Linked DNA regions of Homo sapiens: region 1 is linked to region 2. The links come from fine-mapping of genetic effects on gene expression. A gene starts in region 2. The other region holds a variant in brackets. All regions are shown on one strand. Distances are from middle to middle.

Region 1 (5,375 bases), 100 kb before region 2:
TTACAGGCATCCACCACCACACCTGGCTAATTTTTTTTGTATTTTTAGTAGAGATGGGATTTCACCATGTCAGCCAGGATGGTCTCAATCTCCTGACATCGTGATCCACCCACCTCAGCCTCCCAAAGTGCTGGGATTACAGGCATGAGCCACCGCACCCAGCCAAGATTCTGTCTTAAAACAAGAAAGAAAGAGAGAGAGAGAGAAAGAAGAAAGAAAGAGAGAGAAGGAAGGAAAGAAGGAAGGAAGGAAGGAAGGAAAAAAGGAAAGAAGGCAAAGAGACAAAGAGGAGGCTCATGCATGTAATCCCAGCACTTTGGGAGGCTGAGGCAGGTGGATCACCTGAAGTCAGGAGCTCCAGACCAGCCTGGCCAACACAGTGAAACCCTGTCTATATTAAAAATACAAAAATTAGTTGGGCATGATGGCTCACGCCTGTAATCCCAGCTACTCAGAAGGCTGAGGCAGGAGAATTGCTTGAACCTGGGAGGTGGAAGTTGTGGTGAGCCAAGATGGCACCACTACACTCCAGCCTGTGAGACAGAGCAAGACTCTGAAAAAAAGAAAGAGAAGAGAAGAGAAGGAGGGGAAGGAAGGGAAGGAGAGAGAAAGAAAGAAGAAAGAGAGAGAAAAAAGAGAAAGAAAGAAAAGAAAGAAGGAAGGAAAAATATCGGGGGAAACAGCCCCCAATATTTCAATGTAGATTCTTTCTATTTTCCATAAGTGATGGCTGGCTGAGAAATAAAGGAAAGAGTACAAAGAGAGGAATTTTACAGCTGGGCCTCTGGGGGTGATATCACATATCGATAGGACTGTGATGTCCACTTGAGCCACAAAACCAGCAAGTTTTTATTAAGGATTTCAAAAGGGGAGGGGGTGTACGAATAGGGAGTAGGTCACAAAGATCACATGCTTCAAAGGACAAAAGGCAGAATAAAGATCACATGCTTTTGAGGAAACAGGACAAGGGCAAAATCAGAACTACTGATAAGGATCTATGTTCAGCTGTGCACATATTGTCTTGATAAACATCTTAAACAAAAGAAAACAGGGTTCAAGAGCAGAGAACCAGTCTGACCACAAATTTACCATGGTGGAGTTTCCCAATCCTAGTAAGCCTGAGGGTACTGCAGGAGACCAGGGCGTATTTCAGTCCTTATCTCAGAGACTGCCTAAGACAGACACTCCGAGAGCGGCCACTTATAGTCCTCCCGCAAGGAAGGCATTCCTTCCCCAGGGTATTATTTATTAATATTTCTTGCTAGGAAAATAATTTAGTGATATCTTCCCTACTTGCACATCCTTTTATAGGCTCTCTGAAAGATGAAAAATATGGCTCTATTTTGCCTGACCCCACAGGCAGTCAGACCTTATGGTTGTCTTCCCTTGTTCCCTGAAAATCACTGTTATTCTGTTTTTTTCAAGGTGCACTGATTTCATATTGTTCAAACACACGTTTTACAATCAATTTGTACAGTTAACAAAATTATCACAATAGTCCTGAGGTGACGTATGTTCTCAGCTTATGAAGATAACAGGATTAAGAGATTAAAGACAGGCATAAGAAATTATAAAAGTATTATTGGGGAATTGATAAATGTCCATATTAAAATGAAATCTTCTCAATTTATGTTCAGAGATTGAAGTAAAGACAGGTGTAAGAAATTATAAAAGTATTATTTGGGAACTGATATATGTCCATATTAAAATGAAATCTTCACAATTTATGTTCCTTTGCCACAGCTCCAGCCAGTCCCTCCGTTCAGGGTCCCTGACTTTCCACAACAAAGGAACGAAGGAAGGAAAAAGAAAAGAAGAAGAAGGAAGGAAGAAGAAGGAAGAGGAAGGAAGGAAGAAAGGAAGGAAGGAAGGCTGGCTGGCTGGCTATGTGAGGACATAGCAAGAAGGTGGCCATCTGTAAGCCAGGAACAAAGAGAGCACTCACAAGAAACTTAATCTTCCAGGAACTCAGTCTGGGACTTCTAGCCTTCAGAACTGTGAGAGAATAAGTTTCTGTTAGTTAAGCAATCTCTTCCGTAGAATTGTATTTTATTTTATTTTATTTTATTTTACAGACAGATTATCACTCTGTCACCCAGGCTGGAGTGCAGTGGTGCTATCTTGGCTCACTACAACCTCTGCCTCCTGTGTTCAAGCGATCCTCCCACCTCAGCCTCCTGAGTAGCTGGGACTGCCGGTGCCCACCACCATGCCCAGCTAATTTTTGTATTTTTAGTAGAGACAGGGTTTTGCCATGTTGCCCAGGCTGGTCTCGAACTCCTGAGCTCGAGTGATCTGCTGGCTTTGGCCTCCCAAAGTGCTAGGATTACAGGCATGAGCCACTGCACCTGGCCCCTTCTGTAGTATCTTAAGGCAGCACAAGCATACTGATGCAGATTTTGGCACCATAAAGTGGGGTGCTGCTATAATACCTAAAAATGTGCAAGTGGCTTTGGGACTGGGTGATGGGAAGAGGCCAAAAGAGCTTTAAAGTACATGCTAGAAAAAGCCTAGATTGCCTTAAGGGACTGTTGGTGAAAATACTAAGATTAAAGGAAATTCTGGTGAGAGCTCAAAAAGAAAGTAAGAGAAACAGAGAGAGCCTCTATTGTCCCAGAATACATATGTCAACATGAACACAATGTTCATAGATATGTGGATGTGAAAGGCCATTCTGGTGAGGCCTAAACAGAAATGAGGACCGTGTTACTGGAAACTGGAGGAAAGGCAATCCTTGTTATAAGGTGGCAAAGCTGGCTGAGTTGTGTTCTAGTTTTGTGGAAAGTAGAATTTGCAAGTGATAAAACCAGATATTTAGTTGAGATTTCTAAGCAAAACAAGGAAGGTGTGGCCTGGGTCTTTCTGATTGCTTACAGTAAAATCTGAGAAGACAGAGAATTGAAGAAATGATTGGCAAAAGCGAACAAGAACTTAAAGATTTGTAAAATTCTGAGCCTATCCACACTGCAAAAGAGAAGCATGTTCTGAAGAAAACACTGAGGATGTGACTGGATTGCCGCTCAACAGAGAGATTAAGGGATTATATAAGTAGAAATACTGTCAAATTGAACTGAAGGTGATGGAAAAGGGAAGACTGCTGGGCTTCTTGGATTTTGCAGGATGGGACAACAGAGCTATTTGGTTGGGAGATGCACTATTCTTTGAAAGGGAAGAATGACCCCAAAGATCATAAAGGCTCCCTCCTTGGTTTCAAAG[A/C]ATAAAGCCACCATTTCTTCAGTTTAAACAGGCCAGGTTAACCCTGCCTAGGGCCTTGTGGGCAGGTCCACCCGACAGAGTATGTGGTGGAACAACCACCTAGGGCCATGGGGGTTGAGGCCACCACCCCAGGCAGGAAGGGCATTGAGCCAAAGAGGTGTTTTGTTTTGTTTTTTCCCTTGAGACAGAGTTTTGCTATTGTTGCCCAGGCTAGAGTGCAATGGCATGATCTTGGCTCACTGCAACCTCCATCTCCCGGATTCAAGCAATTCTCCTGCCTCAGCTTCCCAAGTAGCTGGGATTACAGGCATGTGCCACCACGCCCAGCTAATTTTATAATCTTAGTAGAGAAGGGGTTTCACCATGTTTCAGGCTGGTCTTGAACTCCTGACCTCAAGTGATCCACCCGCTTTGGCCTCCCAAAGTGCTGGGATTACAAGCATGAGCCACCATGCTTGGCCAATAAAGAGGTCATTCTCAAGCCTTAGATCTAATGGAATTTGTTTTGCTGGTTTTGGACTGGCTTGGGACCGTCACTCCTTTCTTTCAGATTTCTTCCTTGTGGAACAGGAATGTCTATCCTATGCATATACAACCACTACATTTTGGAAGCCCATACTTTGTCTGGTTTCACTTGTTTCATACCTGGAAAGGAACTTTGCCTCAGAATGAATCATACCTCAATGGTCACCCTTTCATGATTTAGATAATATTTAGATGACACTTTGGACTTCAGATCTACAGAATTAATGCTGGAATGAGTAACACTTTTGGGATTGTTGGGATGGAATGCATGTATTTCAAATGCAAGGACATGAACTTTGAGGGGCTAGGAGCAGAATATAATAAATGAAATGTTTGTGTCCCCCCAAAATTCATATATTGAAGCGATAAGCCCCAGTGTGGCTTTATTTTGAGATAGGGCCTCTTTGGCAGCAGGGAAGGTTCAATAAGGTAGTAGGAGTGGGCCCTGATCTAATAGAATATGTCTTTCAAATAAGAGATACTAGAGCACATGCTCTATCTCCCCATCCCCCACCCTGCAAGCCATGAGGAAGTGCCATGTGAGGATATAGTGAGAAGGCAGCAATCCAGAAGCCAGGAAGCACTTACCAGAAAGAGAATTTGCCAGCACCTTGATGATGGACTTCAAGCCTACAGAATTATGCAAAAATAAATGTCTGTTGTTTATGCCACCAAGTCTGTGGTATTTTGTTATGGCAGCCCAAGCAGATCAATACAGCATCTCAAACATGCCCAATCCTTGCCCACTCCCAATATATCCATGGGATCTTCAAAAATCCATACTAATGGAGAAAGAGACTGTCATCTCAGGAACTGAAGGAGAAAGAGTCTTGGCTGGTGGGAGCTTGAATTATTCCCAACTCTGTATGAGATCTGGGAAGTGTTTGTCTTTGAGTTCCCCAATAATTGCTCCTTTGGCAGCAGCTGTTCTTTGCCAAGCCTTAAAGAACATGACCCGTTGCATATGCAGATTGGTACTCAGATTTCTCAAATTGTCTCTGCTAGCTCCCTTTCCAGTATGCTAGTCCACATACTACAGCTGCCTTAAACTTCTTGAACTCTGAAATATTTATGCTTCAAAGAATAAGAATATGTTTGGAGTTATCTCTATCTATGCCATAGTCTAGGAATTTCCTTCTGACAAGAAGCTGTGCCAATCATAAGACTGGCCATATTTGCTTCCTTTCTTTCAAGAATCATGGTTGTGCAATTCCTAATATCCAAGTCTTAAAACAGTTGTTTCATACATTTTTCCAGTTTTCTAGTTATTTCATCTATCTTGGCCAGTTTGCCAGTTGTTTAAGACCACAAATACTGGAGAATGGGTGGAAGCAAAAATTCCTTTTATAGGTGGAAGCAAAAATCCTTTAAATAATTTTGTATTTAACTGTTGCATAGTTTATTATTCCATTTGGCTGACTCTGAGTTTACAGTCACACTATGTGGATTCTTTTTTAATAATAACTTTTTAATATAGAGACAGGGTCTCATCATGTTGCCTAGGCTGGTCTCAAAATCCTGGGCTCAAGCAATCCTCCTGCCTTGGTGCCTTCGTCTCCCAAGGTGCTGGGAATACAGGCATGAGCCACCATGTCTGGCCTCTCTGGATTCCTTACCGGGTAAGTAGTTTAGTA
Region 2 (5,375 bases):
CCACTGCACTCCAGCCTGGGCAACATGAGTGAAACTTCGCCTCAAAAAAAAAAATATATATATATATAAAACAAAACTTACCAATTAACCTTTTTAAAGTGTACAGTTCAGTCTTAAGTAGATTCACATTGTTGTGAAACAGATCTCTAGAACATTTTCATCTTGCAAATCTGAAACTCTGTACCCATTAAACAACTTCCCATTCCTCCTTACCGCAGCCTCTAGCAACCACCATTCTACTTTTCTGTTTACATGAATTTGACTACTTCAGATTCTCATATAAGTGGGGATCATACAATATTTGTCCATTACTGGTTTACTTCACTTAACATAATATCGTCAACATTCATCCATGTTGCAGCATATGACATTTTCTTTTTTATTTTCACTTATTTATTTATTTTTGAGATGGAGTCTCACTCTGTCACCCAGGCTAGAGTGTAGTGGTGCCATCTCGGCTCACTGCAACCTCCACCTCCCAGGTTCAAGCAATTCTCCCTGCCTCAGCTTCCTGAGTAGTTGGGATTACAGGCGCCCACCACCATGCCCAGCTAATTTTTGTATTTTTAGTAGAGACAGGGTTTCACCATGTTGGCCAGGCTGGTCTTGAACTCCTGACCTTAGGTGATCTGCCCTCCTCGGCCTCCCCAAGTGCTGGGATTACAGGCGTTAGCCACCGCACCCGGCCATCTTATTTTTATTTTTTGAAGAGATGGAGTCTTGCTCTGTCACTCAGGGTGGAGTACAGCAGTGCAATCATGGCTCACTGAAGCCTCAACCTCCTAGGCACATGTAATCCTCCGACTTCAGCTTCCAGAGTAGCTAGGACTACAGGCACATGCCACAATGCCCAGCTGATTTTTTTTTGAGACGGAATCTCGTTCTGTCACCCAGGCTGGAGTGCAGTGGCGTGATCTCGGCTCACTGCAACCTCGGCCTCCCGGATTCAAGCAATTCTTCTGCCTCAGCCTCTCAAGTAGCTGGGATTACAGGCATGTGCCACCATGCCCGGCTAATATTTTTGTACTTTTAGTAGAGACAAGGTTTCACCATATTGGCCAGGCTGGTCTCAAACTCCTGACCCTCTGATCCACCCACCTCGACCTCCCAAAGTGCTGGGACTACAGGCGTGAGACACCGCGCCCGGCCTGCCCAGCTAATTTTTGTATTCTTTATTTTATTTTATTTTTTGTGGAAACAGGATCTCGCTATGTTGCTCAGGCTGGTCTGGAACTCCTGGACTCAAGCAATCCTCCCACCTTGGCCTCCCAAAGTGCTGGGATTACCAGCATGAGCCGCTGCATCCAGCCAAGATTTTCTTCCTAAGGCTGAATGATATTCTATTGTATATGACACATTTTGTTTATCCATCTATCAATGGACACTGGGGTTACCTCTCCCTTTTGACTATTGCAAATAATGCTGCTATGAACATGACTGTACAAGTAACTGAGTCCCCGCTTTCATTTCTCTTGGATTCAGACCCAGAAGTGGTACTGCTGGATCATATGGCAATTCTATTTGTTAATTTTTTGAGGGAACTGCCATACTGTTTTCCATAGCTGCTGTACCATTTTACATTCTTACCAACAATACACAAGGGTATATTTCTTAATATATGGGGGCTGGGTGCAGTGGCTCACGCCTGTAATCCCAGCACTTTGGGGGGCTGAGGCAGGTGGATCACCTGAGGTCAATAATTCGAGACCAGCCTGGCCAACAAGGCAAAACCCTGTCTCTACTAAAAATACAAAAATTAGCCGGGTGTGGTGGCACGTGCCTGTAACCCTCGTCACTTGGGAGGCTGAGGCAGGAGAATTGCTTGAAGCCAGGAGGTGGAGGTTTCAGTGAGCCAAAATCACGCCACTGCACTCCAGCCTGGGCGACAGAGGGAGACTCCACCTCAAAATATATATATATATGGAACCTAAGACAAAAGCCTGCACTCACCCCTAATCTGCTAAATTCAAGTTCTCTCCATGATGAGGTTTCAAAAGGAATTAGTGCAAAATGTATTTAAGGATATGACCAGAAAGGAGAAAGAAAAAACAAATGGCTATTACACACACAGCAGAAAAGTAACACTAGGAGGCAAAGGAACTCAATGAAGAAATATTTCGGTGGCAGGCGGTGGTTCAGCCTGTAATCCCCGCACTTTGGAAAGCTAAAGCAGGAGAATCACTTGAGCCCAGGAGTTCAAGACCAGCCTGAGCAACATAGTGATACCCCTGTTTCTATTTATAAATAAATAAATAAATAAATATTTCCAACCAAAGAATACAAACTTAGTAAAGCTAATGAAGGAAGAACACAGTGAAGAGCTGCCGATGTAAGAGAAAAAAAGAAAATTTCCGGAGGAAAAAAGTTCAAAGATTTGCAACTATTTCCTCAGAAGGAACTGGGAAAAGGGAGTTTTGAGTAATAAGGCCTTGTGCAAGTTTCTGACTCTTAAGGATGTGAATGTACTGCCTTAAAAAATAAACTAAAAAGAGCCTCTTTTCTCACCACAACTCAACAATCATGAAGGTATCCTTGCAAGTGTGTGTAGACCTCTCATGCCTCCTAGGTCCAGGGTCACTCGTCCAGGACTCTCCCAATATCCCTGCCCAGAGGAAGCGCTTCCTCAGACTCGGTTCCTTCTGGTTGCCCTTGTCTCGCTTCTCTAGGGTGGGCTGGCCGCTCCCGCACTGGGGTCAAAGATCCTCCGGGTTCTCTCTGCCACGACTCGCCCTGATCCCAAATCCCAGCCCCACGGTCCCCACCCCCAGCGGGCCCAGTCCCCGCTCGATCCTGGGTGTGCGGCCCTCGACCTCAGACCCGGCCCCTGCCCGCCGGCCGCCCCTCACCTCGGCCTCGGAGGCTCCACGCTCCCCCTCTCACAGCCCGCACCTCGGCGGTCTCTCGGAGGAGGGAGGAACCCGAGGTACCTGGTAGTCGTAGCTGAGGAACTTACAGGCTTGTTGACCATCTCACCATGGAAACTGCCGCAGCGCTCCCTGGGCGGGGCCGCCGAGGGGCGGGGCCTGCGCGAATCCCGGGCGCCCGCCAGTCCAGCGCTCCCTGCGCTTCCGGAAGCCTTGCTGCTCCCGCGTGCCTAGCGGGGGCTCGGCCCTATGCCACGGGCATCCCACCCTGCTACCAGCTGCCCTCTTGTCCGCTGGCCGGACTCTTACCCCAGCCTTCTTCAGGAAGACACGGCGCAGTCCGGCTTCCCCACGAAAGCGAAGGTCGCTGGGACCGCGGCTGGGCGTCCGGGGGCGGGGCCGCGACGCCATTGTGACGCGCTCGGAGCAGGGCTGGGCCGAGGACCCCGGGCGCTGGAGGGCAGGCCCTAGCCACTGCTCCTGAGGCCCTGGAGGCAGCTGACGCTTGAGGCCGCTGGGCGCCGCAACGTGAGCCCAAAGGACGCCCCGCTTCAAGACTGGCGCAAGAGGAAAAAATGAAGGTCGTTTTCTGCGGAGGATGTTAGGAGAACGAGAACTGCGGGCCAGAGAACTGACCTAGCTTAAGGAGCGCAGGCAGCCTCTGCCGCCGGCTCTTGGGGAGACACGGAGAGGATGGGGTCCCCGCTCCGCATCAGGTCCTCTGACGCACCCCGGCTTTCCAGGAGGTAGGACTGGCCACAGGCCTCCTTCCCAGGGACAAAGTGCAAAGCAGAGGCTGTCAGCAGCGTGACCTTCGCTGCAGGAGAAATACGCGTCCAGTTCGTTTTCGTCAGAGTTCTGCTACATCAGGCCTGCCGTATTTGCTGTACACAAATCAGCCAACTTCCCAGGCCTGGGTGCGGAGGTATTTGTTAAGCACATGCACACAGTTGGAATTAGCAGCCTCAGGGATCAAAAGTTGTCCTTTTTTTTTTTTTTTTTTTTGGAGACGAAGTTTCGCTCTTGTTGCCCAGGCTGGAGTGCAGTGGCGCGATCTTGGCTCACTGCAACCTCCGCCTCCCGAGTTCAAGTGATTCTCCTACCTCAGGCTCCCGAGTAGCTGGGATTACAGTCGTCCGCCACCACGCCCGGTTAATTTTTTTTGTTTTTAGTAGAGATGGGGTTTCACCATTTTGGCCAGGCTGGTGTCGAACTCTTTTTTTTTTTTTTTTTTTTTTTTTTTGAGACGGAGTCTCGCTCTGTCACCCAGGGTGGAGTGCAGTGGCGCGATCTCAGCTCACTGCAAGCTCCGCCTCCCAGGGTCACGCCATTGTCTTGCCTCAGCCTCCCGAGTAGCTGGGACTACAGGCGCCCGCCACCACGCCCGGCTAATTTTTTGTATTTTTAGTAGAGACGGGGTTTCACCGTGTTAGCCAGGTTGGTCTTGATCTCCTGACCTCGTGATCCGCCCGTCTCGGCCTCCCAAAGTGCTGGGATTACAGGCATGAGCCACCGTGCCCGGCCTGGTGTCGAACTCTTGACCTCAGGTGATCCACTGGCCTCGGCCTCCCAAAGTGGTAGGATTACAGGCGTGAGCCACCGCGCCCCTGCCCAAGAGTTGTCATTTCTGTAGCAAAGCAGCTAAGCAATATTCTTTTGCCTGCCACCTAAATGTGATTAGGTGCAGCATCATTAAGAAAAAAAATAAAAAGCCCGGGCGTGGTGGCTTACGCCTGTAATCCTAACACATTGGGAGGCCAAGGCGGGTGGATCACCTGAGATCAGGAGTTTAAGATCAGTCTGGCCTACATGGTGAAACTCCAACTCTACTAAAAATTCAAAATTAGCTGGGTGTGGTGGCACATGCCTGTGATCCCAGTTATTCGGGAGGCTGAGGCAGGAGAATAGCTTGCACCCGGGAGGCAGAGGTTGCTGTGAGCCGAGATCTCGCCATTGCACTCCAGCCTGGGCAACAAGAGCGAGACTCTGTCCCAAAAAAAAAAAAAAAAAAAAAAAAAAGCCCTGAGACCCACGGTAGCTGGCCTGGATTACTTGATGAACATAAACAGGTTCACAGAAAATTGATATCAGACGAGTTCTTTCTGTGACTGAGGGAAGGAGAAAATAATTCCGATCAGTGATCTTGCCTGCATAAATAAAAACTGGCACTGCGCAACCACACACACAGAAGAATAAACATCCCTTCTTCAGCTAGCATGAGTAATTACTGCTTTTTCTCCAATGACAGCTTTAGCTCCTCTCTATTCCTCCTGCTTTCTGGATTTAAAAAAAATTTTTTTTTTTTTTTTTTGAGAAGGAGTCTTGCTCTGTCGCCCAGGCTGGAGTGAAGTAGCACAATTTCGGCTCACTGCAACCTCTGCCTCCCAGGTTCAAGCAATTCTCCTGTCTCAGCCTCTCGAATAGCTGGGATTACAGGCACCTGCCACCTAGTAGAGATGGGGTTTCACCAGGTTGGCCAGGCTGGTCTCAAACTCCTGACCTCAAGTGATC

The links. PIP is the estimated chance that this variant, and not a neighbour inherited with it, causes the effect. A credible set is the group of variants that fine-mapping cannot tell apart.
Region 1: its variant is the best candidate, but not a certain one, in a credible set for the expression of ZNF487 in whole blood (TOPMed, PIP 0.82).

Annotation. Positions count from the first base shown.
Region 1 is chr10:43,534,245-43,539,619 of GRCh38, reverse strand. No RefSeq gene overlaps it. Among named protein-coding and RNA genes, the nearest start is that of ZNF239, 38 kb to the left of the region's middle. The variant A/C (reference allele first, on the strand shown) is at 3,217.
Region 2 is chr10:43,434,734-43,440,108 of GRCh38, reverse strand. It overlaps ZNF487 (zinc finger protein 487), which reads right to left and starts at 2,998. Exons shown (of 4, transcript NM_001355444.3): 1 at 2,847-2,998. RefSeq lists a silencer at 2,714-3,373 and an enhancer at 3,474-3,543.